Linked DNA regions of Homo sapiens. The protein of the gene in region 2 interacts with the protein of the main gene of each other region in a pairwise test. Each region holds a gene or a part of one and is shown on either strand. Other genes may lie near its edges.

Region 1 (7,261 bases), on a different chromosome or scaffold from region 2:
GGACTGAGCGTGACTAGGGGACAGGCACAGCCAGGGAACACCAAGTCCTCCAGGATGCAGAGGTGTCAGGCTGCAAGATTGCCCAGTGAAGAGGCAGGACCCAAATCCCCTAAAGAGTAATATTTAGAGAGTCTCTGGGGACCTGGCAGCCAGAGAGAAAAAAAAAAAAGGTGGGGAACCCTGACTGGTTTGGCCTGGGCCCCAGTCCCCACACCTAAGCACCACCACACCAGATCCAGACAACTGGGCCCAGCAGCTGGAAGAGCCTGCTGGTGGGGAAGCCCTCTCCCGGCCCACAGACCCAACTGGTGCTGGCGAGAGCAGGTGCAGGCACCCGGGCAGCCTTGGCACAGCTGGCATCTTGCCCCATGTGCCCGGGTCAGCTGGCCTGGGGCTCCTCTGCCTGGCATGCAGCTCTGGTTGCCAGGTCATGCCCTATCCCCATCTAGAAGATGGGCACTGAGTCAAGTCCAGAGACTAGAGGGGAAGTACTTGAGCATTCAGGGCGCCCCCGGCACAGCCTTGCCTCCAGGCTGGCCTCCATCTCCTCACCCACCAGAGAGGCAAAAGCAGCATTCTCTCCCTCCGCCTGCCCTCTTAGGTGAGTGCAGCCCTCATCTCTTCATCTCCTTTGCCTCTAGAGGTAAAAGACAGGCTTTGGCTTCCTGGGGCAGATGCCCAAGTAGCTTGGCCCTCAGTTTACTCGCAGACTTGGAAATATGAGGGCAACCCAGACCTTCTGCCCCTGCACTCCACCAGTCATTCGTTCTTTCCTAGATCCTTGCAGGAGCCTCGGTACCAGTTTTCTGGCCTCCAGTCTCATCCCCACATTACGCATCCAACCTCAGCCTCCTGCTCCACATTACCCTTACGGTGTTTCCTGGTCGAGTCTCTTAGTGTTTCCCCCACCCGCCACCTCCTTCGAGGTCCAGTCCAAAAGTCATCAGATCCAAGAAGCCTCCCTCAATTCTTCGCACTGAGAGGCAGCTGCTCCCTCCCCTGAGCTCCGCACACCCCTGCTCCCTTCCCTGGGCTCCCTATACCCCTGCTTCCTCCCATGAGCTCCGCACAGCCCTGGTCCCCTTGGATGACAGTCTGTTGGCATTTCTGGCTCCACCATCAGCCTGTCAGCTCCTCCCAGCTCCGTGTCTCCAGGCCCCAGCCAAAGACTGGCATAAATAACCCTTGGGGATAAAAAAAAACAATTCCGTGTAAACATTTATTATACAAAAGGAAACAGAAAAGGCAAAAAACAAAATAGCACAGACCATGGCTCATTGTGCATTAGTGAATGGACTAAAAAAGAATACAGACGGGTGGGACCTGTATACCAAGAGTGCCTGGATGAGGCCAGATGGGGCCTCAGAGGAAGTGCTGGGCTGATCCAGGGACTGACAAGATGGGTCAGCGAGGCAACCTGAAGAGCCCCTTCTACTCCCCACCACCAGCTCACTGTGAGGATTCAGACAAGTGGCTTCACTCCCTCTGGGCCTCAGAGTCCCCTTCTGTAGACTGGGTCTAACGCATCTCTCTGGCAGGGCTGTTGAGAGCACCAAAGAGGTGGATGTCCACAACCAACCTTTGTAAACTTTAAAGTGCTGGCCACATGAGTCTTCCTCCTCCTCTTCCCATAAACCAGACTTTTATTCAACGCAATCCCTTTCCTAGAGCACCCTCCGTCCTCTCTTTGGGTCCCCTAAATGCCACCCACCCAAAGCCCGTTTCAGGAAACTTGGTCTGATCCAAAATCCATGTACATATCTTTCCTCTTTCCCCCACGCACCAGATCCTTAGAGCATCACAGCAGAAAGTGCGGACTCCCTCTGCTCCCTCCTGCCCTCTCTGGGCCTCATTTTAGAGATTTTACACAGCTAGGTGGTGGAGGAAACTATATCCAACTGGGACACATGCTCACACACACGCACACACACAAGCAGCGAGCTGGGGGAGGAAGGTTGGCTGAGCGAGGAGCTGAATTCCTTCACCTGGAACCTGGCACATGCATGGGGGAGGGAAGGGCGGAATTTCCCCATCAACCTCCCCCATGAAACCCAGAGTGGCTCCGGGTCCATTGTGGGTAGAAGCAGCTTTCTGTGGAAAGACCTTGCGAAGTGTGTGGACGCAGACAGACCTGAGTTCAGATCCTGGGCCCACCATGTATTTTGTGAGCTTGGGGAATCATGGCACCTACTGAGCCTCGGTTTCCTCATTTGCTCAATGGGGATCTCTTAAACCCCAGATGAAGCATCCCGGCTCCTAAATGTATTTCCATCTCCCATGTTCTCCCGAAGTCTTCACCAGGGGAGACCTTCTCCACTGGCAATGGGAATCAGGATGGGTTCCCAGACGGTTAGAGGCTGGAGAAAGGGAACTCATTTCCCTTGGTGCCTGCGGCTTCCTCCCAAAGAGGCCCCTATAGGAAACAGCGGGGTTGTTGGGTGCAGAGGCTGCTTAGACATCTGGGGCCCAGAACAGGTGAGGGGGATGGATAGGGACTGTCCCTTCTCCCCAAGTTGGCACCAGATCCCAGTCTGCTGTTTCCCCTGAAAGAACTAGATAGCCCATTAGCCAAGGCCACACCGCCGGGGGGGCTTCAGGGAGCCCCCATCCCACCAAAAGACTCAGCCTCAGTCTTTCTCAGCACCGCGAGCAGAAAGGGGAAGCTGGGCCCGCTGGAGGGGAAAGGAGGGGGTTGAAACCAGGCCAGGGGCGCAAGACCGGGGATTCCCTTGGGGAGGGATGGGGCCGCCTACCTGGCGTGGGCGCCCCTGGGTCCGCGAGCAGGACGGGGAGCGGCGGGAGCAGGAGCAGGAACAGCAAGAACCAGAGCAAGAGACTCCCTGCAGAGGAGAGAGATGAGGGGCTGAGCCTGGCATTCAAGGCTCCACCAGGAGGCCAAGAAAATTCCCCACCGGGCACCGGGGTCGCACTCACGGCTCATGGCGCGGCTGCTGGGGTGCGGGACGCAGAGTGCAGGCTCCTGTGCGTGCGCCTCGCACACTGCCCGGAGCTCCAGCCCATCCCCTCCCCACCCTTCCCCCGGCTCCACCCCCGCTCCTCCCTCCAGCTGTCACCTCGGCTGCCCGCTTACTTCCTCTGCCCAGCCCCGGCCAAGGCATTTTATTAATTAGTGTATGCTCGCCGCTAAAGCGGCTTTTCACCCAAGATCCTTGAAGCACTTACGTTTCTGATGCCTGGTGGCACTAGATATAGACAGGAAACTGAGGCTCAGAGACGATGCTCAATGCTGAGGTCACCCAGGGCTTAGGGACAGAACTGGGGATGGAAGCGGCTCGTCTGAACCACATACCCTGCCCCGCAGAGAAGAAAGGGTCTCAGAGTCCCCTTCTGTAAAATGGGTCTAACGCACTCTACAGAAAAGGGTAGAGAAGAAAAGGGGCTAGAAACAGGGCAGTCTGCAGAGAAGAAAGGGGGCTAGAAATGGGGCAGTCCAGCCTGGCCTGCTGATGGTTTCCTAGATGAGAAACTCACTACTCCTCAGACAGATCTAACAGGAAGGACTTACTTCCCCCATGGGCTGGGCTCCGCCCCCTGAAGCCACAGGTCTCTGCCAGAAATGAAAAGACCGGGCTCCAAACTCCAAGAGAGCCTAGTTCAAATCCAGACTCCACAGCTTACTGGCCGTGTCACCTTGGACAAGGTACTTATCTTTTCTAGCCCTCAGTATTCTCATCTATAAAATCGGCTTAATAGCAAAAACCATCCCAGAGGGTGGTTGTAAGATTCAATGAGGGAATGCACACAAATCTCCTGGTGCAGTGTCCAGCATGTAGTAGGTGCTCAGTTATCGGAAGGCATTTTTTCAAAGATCTCTGAACTCAGATTCCAGGGCTGGCCAGGGTCCATGCTGTAGCTAGACTCACATCCACCGCCGAATTTATAGAATCCCAGCATCCAGCTCTCCTTTTCGCCAGCTCAGGAAGCACCTAGAAGGAGGAAGGAATAGGTCCAAGATCACCCAAAGTCCCATGGTGCTGGCACCCACAAGTCATCTCCCTCAGTTTCCCCAGCACACCCAGCCATCCTGTGGGCCCCACAGTGGGGAAAGCCGGCAGGAGAGCTCAGAGGTTCTTGTGCTGGCTCCTGGGCATCACTGGGTGCAGGGTAGAAATTATGCCAGGTGGGAGAGGTGAAACCTGCTGGGAAGCCCCTCCCCCATTCTCACCCAAGCTGTTCCCATGCTCCCCTGGGACAAAAGCCAGCTGCCCTAGGGAGACAGAGCAAGCCAGGGCAGACCTGGAGAAGGAGTGGGGCATTGGAGGGCCCTGGGGCTCTCAGGGTGCCGGGACCGGCTTCAGCCTTCCCTTCCTCCCCAAATCAAGGGCCCCCTAGCATTTACAGGGCAAGGAGATGGGATTATCAGCAAAAGGGATGGGGACAGGGTGGAGGTGTGGGGGTCCAGTTGTCCAAAGAAAGGGGGAGTTTCTGGTGAGAAGAAAGGAGAGACGGGCTTGAATGAGGTTCCATCTTCCACTCCCAGGCCCTCCCTCCCTTTGGGCCCTGAGCCCATCAAGTCACCACACCTGTGCCTCCTGCTGACTTCCAAGCCACCCATCTGCACTCAAAACAAGAAACACTTGTGTGGCCCTGGCACTGATGGGAAGAGCCTTCACCTCAGAATCAGAAGTGAGTTCAAGTCACTTCTTCCATAGCGTGACCTTAAACAAGCCGCTAGGCCTCACTGGGCCTCTGTTTCCCCATTTGAACAACAGAATGAGCAGATCAGATGGTCTCTGAGGACTGGTCCAGTTCCAGCATGGAGCAATTGAGCCCTCACTGCAGCCAGGCTCTGTGACCAGCACCACAGATCTCAACACAGCTGCAATACAGGAGAGGATGGAGTCTGAGAGAGCAGGCAGGGTGCCGAGGCAGCCCTCCAGGGATGAGGCAGGACCAAGAGCATGGAGTGGGGAGAAGGTAGATGAGAGAAATGGTGGCAGAAGTGCCAGGGCTTGGTGACCGATTAGCACTAGAGCTTAGGGGAAGAAAGGTGCTGAGGACACCTAGCCTTCTGGCTCAATGCTGGTGGTAATATCCAGGGAAGGGGAGCTGGCATGGGTAGGTGGAATTTGAATTTGGGCTTCTTGTATTTGATCCACTTCAAGGAATGAGGAGGATCAAACCTTCCCTGCCTTCTCCAGCTTGGCCCATGGGCCAGCACCCCCAACCGCCCCAGCATGCAGCTGGATACACAGGGGAGAGGTCTGGGGTAGCCCTTGCCCCAGCCCTGGGAAAGAGACCACAGCACAGGGCCACCTTTTCCTGCTCCCTACTGCAAAGCTATAGTCTAAATGCCTAGGACTGGTGTCACCATCCTAGTCCTCAAGATTGTGAGCTTCCACTTATAGGGCAAGTCCACCTCCCATGTCCCCTGGTAGGCCTCCTCTAACATGCCTCCTCCTCCCCCTTCTCTCCTCTAGGAAGCCCCTGTGCCTTCCCTGGCCACAGCAGTGCCACTCCTGATCACATTGTCCCTCTGCCCCCAAACATTATGAGGCTATAAGAGTCCTGGTCACTCTTGTAGCCCCAAGGCCAAGCATAGGATCTGGCGGATAAAAGACATCCAGGGAATGTTTGTTGCTTGAACAAAGAAATGAATGAGTATCTAAAAGAGTAGTGAATGCATTAAAAAAACAGACCAGGTCCAGCACCAGCCTCATCGAAGTGACTGCCAACCACCCATCTGCTGTGACGGCCACCAAAAGTATCACTGCCTGCCTCAGTTTCCCTGCCTTCTCCAGCTTGTCCCATGGGCCAGCACCCCCAGCTGTCCCACAGGCCCAGCTTCACCCCAGGCCCTGAGCCCTTCCCAGCTAAGGCAGCAAGGACCTCCTTCCCTATACCCCACTGGTAACAAGGGATAGGATTTCTCTCTGCATAGCCCCCTCCCCATTATCCACACCAATCACGTGCCCTCCTGCTCACCCTAGCTACAGCCTGGATTGTAATGCTCCTGGAGAGGTCTCACTCCTGCTGGGCCCCACCCACTATTTGGAAAACCAGAGCTGACTCTTACCTGAATCACTCATGGACCCAGCCCCACCCGGCCCCACCTGTGTAGGCAGCTTCTCAGTCAGGCAGGAAGGCTCTGGACTCAATCCAATATCTCTTCAAATCCCAGTCCTCCACCCCACCTGACCTCTCAGTGTGACCTTAAGCAGCAAACTGCCCTTTGTGGACCTCAGTTCCCCCACCTGTAAAAACGTGGTTAATAATGCCACTCTTGCAAGAGTTGTTGTGAGGATGAAGTAAGATAGTCCCTGTGAGCATCCCCAGCATTCAGTAGGAGCTCAATGCTAGTTCTTTATTGGCCCTCGCTTCTACTCCCTACCTGAGCAAGAGGGTTGCATGAAAAATTCCCTTCCTCCTCCTCTTTACCTACTCAGAACCAGGCTAGGGTTGACCATTGGAGGTAATAATAATAATGGCTAATATTTCTTGAATATCTACTATGTGCAGGGTAGAATGCTATGTGTTTTAAATGCACTGTTACATGTGATTTTTCTCAACAACCTTATAAAGTCAGTATCATCACTTCCATTTACAGAGAAAGAAAGTGAGGCCCAGTGTTGAAGCAGCTTGTCCAAGATGCACAACCAGTAAGAGTCAGGTTTCAAGGCCCAACCCTTTTGTTCTGGAATACCGGGTACCTGTACCCAAGCCCCAGCATAACCAACGAGTGTTTGAAGTTAAAAGGAAACAGAAAGGCTCGCTAGGGTGGTAGTCGGCTTGTGGAGCGATGTGTGGGATCCAATTTAAGCAACATAGTTCAGCTGAGAAGCTGAGAACTGAGAGTCACAAAATAATGTTTTGGTTTTGGTTTTGGTTATTTTTTGTCAGGGTCTCACTCTGTTGCCCAGGCTGGACTGCAGTGGTGCGAACTTGGCTCACTTCAGCCTTGATCTCCTGGGCTCAGGTGATCCTCCTACCGCAGCCTCCTGAGTAGCTGGAACTACCGGGTGCATATCACTATGCCCAGCTAATTTTGTTTTATTTGTTTTTTTGTAGAGACGGGGGTCTCACTATGTAGCCCAGGCTGGTCTTGAACTCCTGGGCTCAAGTGATCCTCCCACACTGGCCTCCCAAAGTGCTGGGATTACAGGCATGAGCTACCACACCCGGCCTACCAAATGCGTTTACATCCCTTTCTCATGGAAACCCTCACAATTGCTGGAAGAAGAAGGTATCATGATCCCCATTGTGCAAAGAGGAAAATGAGGCTCAAAGATGTCCGTAGATT
Region 2 (6,829 bases):
AGCCATGGGCTCATGTTCATCAAATAGGAATGAAAAACCATGCCATCTAACAAAAAAGCTTCTAATATTGCAAAGAATAACGGTTTGAGCCCGGAGATCCACGTCAGCCACTCTCTCTGATGGTGCCAAGCTCTAGTCCAGGGACACCAAGTTCAGTCAAAGAACTCAACAGTCTAGTGGAAGAGACAGACAGTGCTGTCTGTCAGAAAAGACAGAGAAGTCAGAGAAGATGCATATATGAACTAAGTGTCCTGAGGGATGAGTATCTTGCCAGTTAGAGAAGGGAGAGTCCATTGGGAAAAGGCAGAGTCCTAAAAGACATGGTATATCCATGGAATGTTAACATGAGAAGTTCAGTGAAGCTGGAGAGGAGAGAAATGGCCAGGGGAGAGGGAGATGAGATGGTTAACAGCAACATGTAGGAAAGAATCCAACTGTGAAAGCTTTTAGAAGTCAAGCTAAGTGGAAAACAGGGAACAAATGGCACCTTAAATGAAAAGATTAGATGTGGACTTTAAAAAGATAACTTGGGCAACAATATGGAGAAGATAGGAGCAAGGAAAGACTTATGGAGGAGTGGCCATTTGATAAGGGTCTGAACTAGGAGTTACAAACTCAAATTCCTAGAGGCAATGCAGGTAAAATGCTAAGTCTTCAGTGTGTAAGATGTCAGAAAATGGTGGTATCCGTAATCTTTGAAGAGTACAGGCCTTCTCTCTGATGGTGCCTAAAAGTATTCACACACAAAATTTTAAGCCCTTAGGCTGACTGATTGATTTTTGGGATGGAGTCTTCTTCTGTGCCTAGGCTGGAGTTCAGTGGCACAATCTCAGCTCATTGAAACCTCCACCTCCTGGGTGCAAGCAATTCTCTTTTCTCAGCCTGCTGGGTAGCTGGTACCACAGGCACTGGCCACCATGCGTGGCGTGCCTTTTTTTTTTTTTTTAAATACAGACAGGGTTTCACCATGTTGGCCAGGATGGTCTCAAACTCTTTTTTTTTTTTGATATGGAGTCTCACTGTTGCTCAGGCTGGAGTGCAGTGGTGTGATCCTCGCTCACTGCAACCTCCACCTCCTGGGTTCAAGTGATTCTCCTGCTTCAGCATCCTGAGTAACTGGGATTATAGGCACGTGCCACCACGCCCAGCTAATTTTTTGTTTTTAGTAGAGATGGGGTTTCACCATGTTAGCCAGGCTGGTCTCAAACTCCTGACCTCAGGTGATCTGCCCACCTCGGCCTCCCAAAGTGCTGGGATTACAGGCGTGAGCCACCGTGCCCAGCCTGACTTTAAACGTCCAGTTTTGACCTCTGGTAAATTAAGGCAATGACAGTGGGAATGAAGAAAAGCCACACATCAAACAGTACTCCAACAAAATCAACAGGGTTTAGCACATTTAAAGATGTGAGCATAAAAAGAATGAACAAGGCCGGGCGCGGTGGCTCACACCTGTAAACCCAGCACTTTGGGAGGCCAAGGCAGGTGGACCATGAGGTCAAGAGATCGAGACCATCCTCGCCAACATGGTGAAACACTGTCTCTACTAAAAATACAAAAATTAGCTGGGCGTGGTGGCACGTACCTGTAGTCCCAGCAACTCAGGAGGCTAAGGCAGGAGAATCGCTTGAACCAGGAAGGCAGAGGTTGCAGTGAGCTAAGATCACACCACTGCACTGCAGCCTGGGTGACAGAGCAAGATTCCTCTCAGAAGAAAAAAAAAAGAGTTGATGAGAGGATCAGAGTTGAGAAAGTACAGTACAGGCTCTTGCTCATTCTACCCTTACTGAGAACCTACTATGTGCAACGTACCATGGATACAATTCTAGCAAAGCAGACCCTGATTCTCAATACATACTATGATTGGAGTAAATACCAGGTTCTCCTGAGTACTCAACCCTGGTAAGTAAGAAGAGGCTTCATGGAAGAGGTGACTTCTAGGCTGAAACCAGTTGGCCAGATTAAGCTTGGGGAAGGTGTGTAAAAGAACGCTTACATATGCTAAGGTCTGAGGTGAAAGAGAACGTGGGCAATTTGTTGGAATTATAAGGAGCAGAAACGTAATTTGGAGGGTGACGACTACCTAGAGATATCATAGTCTGATTAGGTGAAGGACTCAAAAGTTTGGCGATGAAAAGCAGGAGGGAGATAGAGTAGTAGCCTAGTAGAATTAGAGATGAGGGAGGTTCTTCCTATTAATTCAGAAAGGAATATGGGAACAAACTCACTGATAAGACAGTGTTCTCCACAACTCAATATTTAGTTATTAGGAAGGCAACCAAATGCCTTCACTTCTTTTCCTTTAACAATGGCTTAGTTTGACTAAAGTGTTTCTCACAAGATACACACAAAAAAACAAAATACAAGAGCAAATGACGGATAAAGCTGTAAACCTAACGTTTTACTTTTCTAAGATTTATATAATCAGTGATTTAATTGGACCTAACTCCACATCCAGAACTCAAATGAAAGAAAACTTCTGGCCGGGGGCCGTGGCTCATGCCTATAATTCCAGCACTTTGGGAGGCTGAGGAGGGTGGATCACCTGAGCTTGGGAGTTCGAAACCAGACTGACCAACACAGCAAAACCCTGTCTCTACTAAAAATACAAAATTAGCCGGGCATGGTGGCGCACATCTATAATCCCAGCTACTTGGGAGGCTGAGGCAGGAGAATCACTTGAACCCGGGAGGTGAAGGTTGCAGTGAGCCGAGATCACACCATTGCACTCCAGCTTGGGCAACAAGAGTGAAACTCCGTCTCAAAAAAAAAAAAAAAAAAAAAAAAAAAAAAAACCTGACTCACTTCTGAAGACAGGATTTTCCCAGTTTCTAATGCAGCTTCATCTAGCTAATGAAACTTAAGAAAACAGTTTGAGGTTACCTGATTTTGCCAGTTTCAAAACATTGCCACGACAGAAAGCAAGCTGTCTCTAGTTCCTGTGGCTGAGGTCGCTGGAGCCATGTTCAGATGAGATCATCTCAGGAACCAAGAGCAGCGGCTTTCATGTGAAGTGAATGGTGCCGCCTGGGGATGTATCTTTGGTAAGCAAGATTGCAACACAGCAGGGAGTTTACCCAGGGCAGTGCTGACTCACGCTGGGCAAAATTTGTACTTCCCAAACAACTCAGCCTGAACCAACCGCAGTCAACTGCAACCTAGGAAAGAAGAGGCAGCTCACTGATTGTTTTAAATCAAGTGCTGATTACTGGGGGCAGGTAAACCTCATTCCCCCACTACTGGTAACTTGGCCACCTCCAGAGCCCTTACCCAAAAAGTTCCAGTGGCCAGTTTCTAAAATTTCATCTGAGAACAGGCTGGGGCTGGGGCCAGCAAGATTACTGAACATAGCAGGTTCACAGCTCTGAAGATTTCCCCAGGAGGCTGATAAATAAGTCACTTTGCATTTACAAATTAGAACATCTGGGTCAGTGGACTCAGGGAACTTGCCCAGTCATCATTAGCCAGTCAAATCATTAGGGTGAATTTTTGTCAGTTCTAACCAGGCTCATTGTTCTTTTTTCCCACTAGGCCTCCTCTGACCTCTCTATTTCTTCAGACAACTCAAGTTCTCTCATTAAGATAGATGCACTGGAATTTTTTTTTTTTAATCAGCTGCCACATTCTCTATGCTAAAGCCAAATCATTTACCATCACACCTACTGGATGCATAGGGAATACAGAAGACTATGAAAATCACCTTAACACTTGCTCTGAAAAGAGACATCCCTAAATTTATGTCAATTCTCATTTATTAGCCTGCTTATTTAAAAAATCAATCTAGAATGACTGGCTCATCAACAGCTATTAATTACTGAATTTGCCCTGACAGGCTAGAATTGACATTGGTGTTATACAAAAAAAAAAAAAAAAGATCAAGTCCTTGCTTTTTGTGTGCTTTAATTTGACAAGAGAGAAACTAAAGTTCCTATTAGATCCTTCTGTTTCCTGCTTAAAATGTATGACAGTTCCCCAAGGCCATCAGCTATTTCTTAGCAGGGCATTTGAGGCCTCTGCACCCAGCTTCGTTCATCCTTTAAGGTAGGTCTCACATGGCATGAACTCTGGATGTAGCTGCCAACTCAGCTTGTCATTCAATAATGTTAGGTTAATTAAAATGTACGTGCAGACAGAATTTGAGTTTAAAAACTATACTACTTAATTTTCTATTCAAGGGGCTAGTTTTAAAAAGTTATTTATCCAACTCACTTAATTCTCCTTAATTACATTATTCCAGTAGGATAGCCACGCTGAGCTTTGATAAGGTATTATAAAATGTTCCCTGTTTTATTTCCTCCCCTTCAGTGTTTTCCTTTCAGAAAATGGCTTTGTTTAAAGAAGTTTCCCTATAGTACATGTTAATTAGTCCTTTCTGAATGATAAACACATCTTTATAGCAGCTGACAACCATTATCTCTTCAACCACACTTTAAAAAAAATTTCTGTAGTTGATGATAAGTTACAAATTCTAGTATGAAACAACTCTCAAGGTACAGACAAATATGGAACCTCCTTCAGAAAAAAAAAAAATGATTAGAAAAGCTCCTGACCTGTTCTGTATTTGCGAACTTTAAATAAGAGGGCCGGGCACAGCGGTTCACGCCTATAATTGCAGCACTTTGGAAGGCCGAGGTGGGCGGATCACCTGAGGTCGGGAGTTCAAGACTAGCCTAACCAACATGGAGAAACCCCCATCTCTACTAAAAATACAAAATTAGCCAGGTGTGGTGGCACATGCCTGTAATCCCAGCTACTCGGGAGGCTGAGGCAGGAGAATCGCTTGAACCCGGGAGGCAGAGGTTGCAGTCAGCCAAGATTGTGCCATTGCACTCCAGCCTGGGCAACAACAGAGCAAAACTTCGTCTCAAAAAAAAAAAAAAAAAAAGAAAGAGAAAATCCAGACAGTACTATGCCCAGGAGACAGATACGAACTATATAAAGAGCAGCCTGAAGGCCAAAGGCATGGAACTCCTAAGTTGACTAAGAGAAACACCATTGAGCAAGTGAACAGAGCTGCTGCAGCTTATCATTCCCCTCTTTGGGACTCTGATACAGTTTTAACCAACTGCCCCAAATTATAGCCACACTCCATCCTAGTTCTTCCTTTTAAAGTGGAAAGGTTGAGGATTACATTTTAGAGCTTAAAAAGGTACTCGTTTGAACTAGTGGTTTCAGGCACTTGAGGATTTATGAGGTTACATGAAAATTATGAGAATATGAGGCTATGGGAGAAATAATAACTGTGGCTTTCTGACTAAGTTCTTTCAATACATTATTTTAAAATTAGCCAGGCATGGTGGCATACACCTCTAACCCCAGCTACTCTAGAGGCTGGGGCAGGAGAATCACTTGAACCCAGGAGACAGAGGTTGCAGAGCCGAGATTGCGCCACTGCAATCCAGCCCAGGCGACAGAAGGAGACTCCATCTCAAAACAAAAAACAACAAAAACAGAAAATACGTTATTTTAAAACTCAAGTAACTTAACACCCAAAACTATTTATGCTTTTTTTAATAGGGTGGTCTCAACAGATATTTAATGAGTGTGCATATGTGTATGTGCCCATTGTTTCATTTGAACAGACATATGTGATGTCATTGACATCCCAGATTTACTTTCTTTTCTGCAATAGATCTTGACATTATAAACAATAAGCAGGTTTCAAAAGAGAAATTAAAATATCCATTTCTCAGGATTCTGTAGTCTTCCAAATCCACAGAAAATTACCAAATACATACAGAAGATCTGGGAGGATGCACACAGCAGGGAGAGCACTGTAATGGGAATAAAGATCAAATAGCTATGTTTAGCTTTATCCAAATTACCCCCCAAAAATCATGAATTTTTTTACAACAAGCATATATTCAAATATGACTTGGTAGTTTAAAATTCAGTTAAAATTTTAAAGTTTGTATCACTTACAAACTGCTTTACTCTCTCTTCACACTCTTTCCTCTCAACATCTCCCTTTTATCTACTTCCCTACCCCCAGCATCCTAAATGATACTGCACATTTCTTGTTTTTAACAAAATTAATCTTACTTGTGTCCACATCCTTTTTCTAACTGAGAAGTCGGTGAATGGATAAATGCACATTTCCAGGAATCAGTGCCTGTCTCACCTTGTTGATAATTAATGATTGCCAAATTCTAATCTTGGTGTTCAGTGACCTCACAGCCTTTTTTTTTTTTTAACTATAGAACATAGTATTTAAGAAAAACAATATGATGGCAACCAAATATTTATCATCTAATAAATCACAGAAATTAAACATGAAAAATGAAGTAAACTTTATGATACTCAACAATTAACTCTAGGGGTACTTAAGAATCAACAGGGGTGCTTATTGAAAATGAACATTTCTCATCCCAGTCCCTCAGACACTCTGAATTAGCAGACATGGAGGGAGGCCCCAGAAACTGAATTTTTTTTTTTTTTTTTTGAGACGGAATCTCACTCTCATCGCACAGGCTGGAGTGCAATGGTGCAATCTCAGCTCACTGCAACCTCCACCTCCTGGGTTCAAGCAATTCTCCTTCCTCAGCCTCCCAAGTAGCTAGGATTATAGGCGTATGCCACCATGTCTGGCTAATTTTTGTATTTTAAGTAGAGACAGAGTTTTGCCATGTTGGCCAGGCTGGTCTCGAACTCCTGACCTCAGGTGATCCACCTGCCTCAGCCTCCCAAAGTGCTAGAATTACAGACGTGAGTCACCATGCCTGGCCAAAACTGAATTTTTAATAAGTATCTCTCTCTTCCAAGCCTTTTTTTTTTTTTTTTTTGAGACAGAGTCTCGCTCTGTCGCCCAGGTTGGAGTGCAGTGGCACAATTT
Region 3 (7,028 bases), on a different chromosome or scaffold from region 2:
AAGGTCTTGATAAGACAAGGCAGCCTGAATTTAAAATGTTGGGGTCCTTTACTTCCTAGCTCTGGATCCACAGTCCAAAAATGGGAGGCAGCTAGCTCCAGGTCACGTGGCTAACGCAGGGGATGCGGCCAGGTGGAGTCTGGCTTGTGTGCACTCACTGGAGGGCTCAGAGGGCACAACAGACCACCGGCCGCACGGCTGGGATGGGCCCCTCCTCTGCCATCTGGTTAAAGGCATGCCCTTCTCCTCCTGCGTCTTCTTCCGCAACCCCCAAGCCCTAGGGACTTGCTGCGCTCTGGAGTAAGACAGAGCAGGGTTCAAATCTCAGCCACAACTCTTGTAGCCTGCAGTCTGGGGCAGGCCTCTGTTTCCCCATCTGTGAAGTGGGGATGATACCAACAGCTGCCTTGTGGGCTGCGTGAGGGTCCAGGGAGATAATGCGGGAGACAATGTCCTAGATGGGCGTTGGTACCCTCAGGCTTCTGGCTCTCAGCTCTGCCCTTCTCCTGGGCTCTACCTGGAGGGCTGAGGCAGAGCCCCTTTCTTCCCAGTGCAGCCTGGGGTCTTTTGAAATGTGGGAGCAAATTAGGGCCCATCTCGCACAGTGCCCTGCAACAAGGCTGGAAGCCAGGCAAAAGGGGTTCCCAGTGCACGGGCTGAGCTGTGAAGACACCACAGCCTCAACACCGCGACAGCAGCGCCTGTCGCAGAAACTGCGGGTCTTTCGCTCCTTTCTCCTAAGAGCTCATGGGATCAAGCTCATGGAGTCCTGGAGCTGTTCCAGTTTTCTGAGCCTCAGTGTCTAGAATAGGAATGGCAGTGCCTCCCCGCCTCCCCATAGGAGTGAGGTGAGAATTCATGAATGGCTGGGGAGTAGGCTAGGGAGCCGGGCAGTCATGGGGCGTTACTGGGGGACAGCCACTGACCGTGACCCTGAGGAGTCAGAACACCTCCCAACCTGAGCTCTGACTACAGTCCCTGCTGCCACAAGAGAGGAAGGTTATTTTTCACAATCTCCCATTGATCTTGATGAGAAACCTAATGGTGGCTTCTCCTAGGACCACTGTCTCTGCTGGGCCCAGCACCAGGAGGTGTGGGTCCCACTCCCCTCCCTGGCCAGGCCAGCCACAGGAAGGCCACCAGCAGACATAAGGACAGTGAGACCCACTGGGGCCCAGGAGCTGGTTGTGGGAGGGTAGAGCGCAGTGTGGGGTCACAATGGCCAAGGGAAGAACCAGATGTAAGTGCAGGACTCAGGCCACCCACTCTGCCAGTCTGGCAGGGGCAGGAGTGGCCAAGCTCCCAGAGTGACCTTTGGCAGTTAAGGCCCGCAGAGGAAAGGCAAAGGAGGGGAGGACTGTCTTCTGCTGGAGGTCAGAGCTGGCTGTGTGCACATCTGTGTGCAGCCTGACTCTGGAAATTCCCATCTCTGTAGTCATGCAGGGTCGCTCAATGTGTCTCTGCCTATGGGCACGGTTGCACTGTGCACCCTGACGCCGTAGTGTGTGAGCCTGGGGCAAGGCGCTACGTTTCTCCACTCTGCCCTGCCTGCATGGTGGTTGCTGGGGAGACTTGAGGTGACAGGAGAGAAGGCACATTTTCCATGTGTAGTGTTGCCATGCTCAAAGGGCTTCATGCCATCACCTCAGCTGATCCTCTTGGCACCCTGGAAGATGGAGCAGATAGCACAAGGGAGGCCTGGGGTTTGGGGGCAGTGTGGTCCAAGCCAGCCACCCGCCCATGCTTGGATGCTTGTCCTCACAGATGAAAGAGGCAGGAAGCCATCTGTTCAGGGCAGAGACGCTGAGGTGCCAACCCCATATCCCTTCTTTCCTACATTCAAGACCCTGATTGTCTCTGGGTCCTTTTGCCCTTCTTTCTTTCTCCTTCCTGCTCATATGTCAGTATGAGCCCATGTGTGCTGGCTGGAGCTCCAGCAGTTATGTTGCACCTTAAGGTAACCTCAGGGGTGATACAGGGCAGGCCTGAAATGCTGCTGATCAGGCGGCCTCCAAGCCAGCCCTCCACTGCCCCTCTGGACTTCTGCATGAGAGAGAAACCCCGCTAACCTTGTTCCATCCACTGTTATTTGGGGCGTTCTGTTATGAGCAGCCAGACCTGAACTATCCTGAATGTGTGAGCAGCTCACAGGGCATCAGGCCAGACCTTTTGAGAGTCAGCTAGAGGCTGGAGGGCCAGCTTATTTCTCCTTCCCTCATTCCTCCTTTAATTCTTCACCCTTCCCTGTTCCCCACCACTGTTTCTCAAACTCTGTGCCAGGCGTTTTCCTTGCATTCTCTCTCTGACCTCCCCACAGCCCTACTGAAAGGGAATGTGTGGGAAGTGCTCTTGTTAGGGGCTCCTAGCCCTTTCAGAGGAAGTGGGCACTCATTCGTTACTTGATTGCTTGATTAGAAGATGCGTTCATTGACCAACCTCCAAGCACAAGTGACTCCCTCCCAGGCTCACCCCTCCCCCAAACCTGAAGGCTGTGGGGCCCGGGCTCAGTGTCAGCCACGCTGGCACCTGACCCAGGGACCTAACTGAGCAGGATGAGTCGTGGGCTGACCCCAAGCTCCTCCTCTGTCCAGCTTTTCTTCCGCAAACACTTATAAACCTCTCCCATCCAAAGGGAGCCCTAGGAGTTCAGCCTCCCAGCCAGGACACCCCAACACCAGCCAGGACACCCCAACGCCAGCCAGGACACTCCAACACCAGCCAGGACACCCCAGCGCCAGCCAGGACGCCCCAACGCTCACTTTCCCCAAAGGAAAGTGGAACAAGAGGGGACAAGGGTCAAAGAAAAAGGCTTCCTGGTCCAGAGCAACCCCCAGAAGCCTCCATTCCTCCCCCCGACCCCCCTCCAGAGCAAGACCCCATTCCCCCAGCACCTACCTTAGCCGGCTGCATCCTGGGCGCTGAAGAAAACTGTTGCCAGCCTCCCCACTTCACAGCCGAGGCAGACAAGACTGCCCAGGCCGGCTGGCAGCTGCCTCATGTTTGCTTGGACCCAGACGTAATTGTCAACGGCGGCTTCTCGCCCTCCCCCTGCCCACCCCTTCCTCCCTGCCGGCTTCTATCGCTCCACCCCTCTGCCTCCTCGCTCCCTCCCTTTCTCTCTTTCTCTCTCTCTCTCTCTCTCCCCTCTTTCTCTCTCTCTCTCTCCCCTCTTTCTCTCTCTCTCTCCATGGCCCCTAATCCTGGTCTCTCAGAGCCTGTCCAAGCCTCTGTCTGGCTCTCCTGGCCTCTCCCCTACCCTGTCACCAGCGGCTCTCTGTGCCTCCCCTGCCCGCTGCCTCTTTCTCTGCTCCTTGCCCTTTTTGGTCACCAAGGAGGAATGGGGGTAGAGGGTGCAGGGAGCTGGGGCTGGGGAGAGGGGAGTTCAGGGCAGGAGTTTCTGCCCCAAGAAGTGGGGAGGAGCAGCAGTTGAACCCAGAGTGCCCAGGAGGGACTGTGGAAGTGGAAAAGGAAGGGATCATTCCTGGAGGTATTTTCCAGAACAAGCCAGGACACCCCCACTGCCCCAGTCCCGCCTGCCACTCTTCACAGACACAGGACAGTGCCACCCTTATGATGATCTCAGCCCAAGGGGCCCCCAGGACAGCAGGGAGCCACTGCACCCAGCATCTGAAGCGTCCTCTCTCAGGGTCCTGGCCTGAGGTGCTGGTCTGCAAGGTGCTGGTCTGGGGCTCACATCCTAGAAACAGCAACAGCCACCAGGGCTACATCAGCAGGGTGACACTCAGGGTCCTTCCACCTCTTTCATCTGTCCCTTATTAACTACCTCCCATTCACCCATCCGAGGGCCTCGAAGCACGGGTGTCTCCCCAAAGCATGACCTGCTCATGCTCTCCAGCTGTGCTGGGTCCCCTCCCAGCTCCCAAGTCAGGATGCATCCAGGGTGGCTGAGGACCTGACGGGATCTCCTGGGGTGTGAGGGTGAAGGATGGGGCCGAGGGCTCCCAGGCATCCCTGAGAGAGGGGGCTGTGTCCTGTCCCTTGGGCGGGCAGCTCCTGGGCATTTGCTTGGCCCCCAAGCAAACCACTCAGGAGCCAGGTGCCTGAAACCTTTGCCAAGTTTCCCTTTTTGGAGCCCAGAGGAGCCAGCCTGTGCCAGTAGTTCCCATGGAGACGAAGCCCTAGGATGCCTCCCTCCTTTGCAGCCTGCACAATTGTGCTTGCATGCCCTTTTCCTTTTTTTTTTTTTTTTTTTTTGAGCCAACCAATTACCTCCAACTTTCAGATCCTCAGGGGAAGAAAATAGCCTGGAGCTGTCGACCCACCGAGGCAAGGAGGACTGTTTCCAGAGGGGAGGTGGCAGCCCAGGTGTCTGGCCCTGTGCGACTTCAGAACAGGCTGGACTTCACACTGGGGAAGGGGCTCGGCAGAGCCCGGAGGACTCCCTAGCTGCCCCCGCCCCACCCACACTGCACCCTAGGAAGTGGAGGGAGGCAAGCGCCTTCATGGCTGCCAGCTCAGGGCCGGCATCCTGGGAGCTCATCTGCTTTTTTTTTTTTTTTTTTTTTTTTTGAGACAGGGTCTCACTCTCTCACCCAGGCTGGAGTACAGTGGTATGATCATGGCTCACTGCAGCCTTGACCTCCCAGGCTCAAGCAATCCTCCTATTTCAGCCTCCCAAGTAGCTGGGACTACAAGGCTCATGCCACCATGCACGGCTAATTTTTGTATTTTTTCGTAGAGATGGGGTCTCACTATGTTGCCCAGGCTGGTCTCAAAGTCTGGGGCTCAAGTGATCCACCTGCCTCTGCCTCCCAAAGTGCTGGAGTTCCAGGCATGAGCCACCGTGCCCAGCCCCATCCTCCTTTCACTGCCTGAGACAGTCCTGCCCTCCTGACTCTGAGCAAGCCTCGCCTCCGCAAGCAGGGACGCATTGAGCATTTTGAGTCCTCATAGTGACCTTGGGAGAAAAGTGTAATTATCTCACTCTACAGATGATAATGGTGAGACCCAGAAAAGCTAAAAGACTGGCCCAAGTCACAGGCTAGGGAGTGGTAAAGCCAGGTCCCAAAGCCTGTTGCCTTCTTCCTAGAGTGAGCACCGTGGATGCTGAGATCCCGCTGGCGGTTCTATGCCCACGGCTTACACAGCAGCTTGGAAACTTGGTGACTGCACTGCCGTGATGGGCTGGTCTTCCTGACGGCCTGGCCGGAGGAGTCAGGAGCAGAGGAACCCACTCATCACAGCAGCACCCCCAAGAGCTGCTCGCCCCTGCTTGGCACACTCGCTGACATCCCACACTCAGATGCGCTGTCCTCGGAGTTCACCAGCCGTGACACCGCGGGCCTGGGACAACTGCCCTGCTCTGCTGGACCCACCGGCTGTTCGGGCCTTGCGAACCTCCCACTGCAGCTAGCACCTGGGTGGACACCCCTCATACAGATGTGGGGCGTATGTGACCCTGCCACCACACCCCCCTTCCTCAGTGGCCTATCCAGGGCCCCAAGTGCTTCCAGCTGGGTCCCTCCCCTGGGCCTGTGGGGAACACAGGAATGAGAAGGGGAGGAGAAAGGGGGCTGGACTCCCACATGGGCCTCAGAGGCGGACCTGTTGTGGGCACACGGGCATCTGCAGACTTCCCAGAGACGGCCTTGGCAATTCCCAGTATTCTCTGCGGTATATCAGACCCACAGAAGGTTAAGGAGGCTGTGGAAGGACCTGGTCTTGTCCACTAGGAACGCTTCAGCCCTGTGTTTCCCACTGTGGTTTCCTCACATAGGGGCTGTGGGGAGAAACTGAGGCTGGGGGGAGTTTGGAAGTGGGAAAGGAAGGGATGATTTCAAGCCCGGATGAAGGTCGGGTTTTCTCTCGTCACAGTGTTTCAGGAGGCAGTCGTGGGCTGTTTCAGCTGACCAGGGCCTTCATTCTTGTCCTTCCCCGGGCGAGCGGCTCATGGTGCTCATGCCCACAGGTCTTGGGGGCCTCTGCGCCTTCCTCCATTGTTGCTCATGATCCCACATTCCAGGCCCAAATTCAAGTCCCTCCTCCCCAGGCCTCCAAACGCAACTCTGTGGAGCCCCAGCCCAGGGCTCTTTTCCTTAGGCCCTATTTTTTGTTGGGCCCTGGCTGAGGGGTACAGGGGGAGAGAGAGAGAGCTGAGGGGTACAGGGGGGAGAGAGAGAGAGAGACAGAGAGAGAGAGAGAAAGCCTCGCCAGCTGGGTGCATCTTGGTAAGAAAATACAAATGGTCCTCATCACTTCACATCACAAAACACAGGCTCAGCCCCCATCGAAGCCCATGCCATCATCAACTCTCCTGCTCCCCACCCAGCTCAGGCCTGGGGGTGGCAGCTTGGGGCAGGCAGTGGGCATGGCAGCCTCTGGCTGAGCTGCGCTCTGGGTTTGCAGAGGTTGAGAGCTGTCCCTCTTTCTCTGTGGGCTCCTCCAAGGGTCCTAAGAGCCTGGCCCCATGGTCCCCTGACTAGAGTGTTTCACATGGGCCTCAGGGGACCCATAAGCCCCCAATACTTAGTGGCAGCTCTGCCTCCTCTTGGCTGAGGTCGGTTCACTCTCTGGGCAGCCTCCTTCGACTGGACCTAGGAGACTCCATGCTGTCTCTCACAGGAGGCCCTCACCTGGGCCGCCAGCCCTCTCCTTAGCTCCGCCTTCAATGCAGCCAGCCTGACTGCCCTCTAGACTTTGCAGTGGGTGAGGCATCAGTCCAAGGGATTTATTAAACTGCAGGGGACACGGTGAAGCTCTCTGGCGGCTTTCTTTAAAGCCCCTTTCCTTGCAGCTTGAAGTGAAGAGAGGGCGGCCGACCGCACCCCTTGGACTCAGCTCGCCTCTCTGAAACCTCCCTCCTCTAACCTCAGCGCCTGACTCCTTGGCTCCCACTCCAGCCCTTAGTGTGGGTAGGGGCTCAGCCACCTCTTCCCTAAATTCTGCTTCACTCGTGGGCAGAAGCCAAGGGCTCGGACGGGGCCCCACCCTCTGCACACCCCCTCCATCCCTCCTCATCCGAGCTGCAGTTCTCGGTCAGCATTTGTAAGACGGATGAGTGTGGACCA

What was found. The genes of interacting proteins can lie anywhere in the genome.
Region 1: the proteins of RFFL (region 2) and PTGS1 interact in binary tests that used the Homo sapiens proteins (3 or more experiments, as listed by UniProt).
Region 3: the proteins of RFFL (region 2) and KCNIP3 interact in binary tests that used the Homo sapiens proteins (3 or more experiments, as listed by UniProt).

What each region holds. Positions count from the first base shown.
Region 1 is NC_000009.12:122,366,765-122,374,025, reverse strand, and holds the start of PTGS1 (prostaglandin G/H synthase 1 isoform 1 precursor), read right to left. Parts: upstream 3,003-7,261; 5' UTR 2,942-3,002; coding exon 2,935-2,941; intron 2,841-2,934; coding exon 2,754-2,840; intron 2,414-2,753; exon of another isoform or gene 2,211-2,413; coding exon of another isoform or gene 2,192-2,210; intron 1-2,191. UniProt on the Homo sapiens protein: Dual cyclooxygenase and peroxidase that plays an important role in the biosynthesis pathway of prostanoids, a class of C20 oxylipins mainly derived from arachidonate ((5Z,8Z,11Z,14Z)-eicosatetraenoate, AA, C20:4(n-6)), with a particular role in the inflammatory response.
Region 2 is NC_000017.11:35,060,696-35,067,524, forward strand, and holds the start of RFFL (E3 ubiquitin-protein ligase rififylin), read right to left. Parts: upstream 3,013-6,829; 5' UTR 2,881-3,012; intron 1-2,880.
Region 3 is NC_000002.12:95,293,321-95,300,348, reverse strand, and holds the start of KCNIP3 (calsenilin), read right to left. Parts: upstream 3,003-7,028; 5' UTR 2,911-3,002; coding exon 2,896-2,910; intron 1-2,895. UniProt on the Homo sapiens protein: Calcium-dependent transcriptional repressor that binds to the DRE element of genes including PDYN and FOS. Affinity for DNA is reduced upon binding to calcium and enhanced by binding to magnesium. Seems to be involved in nociception.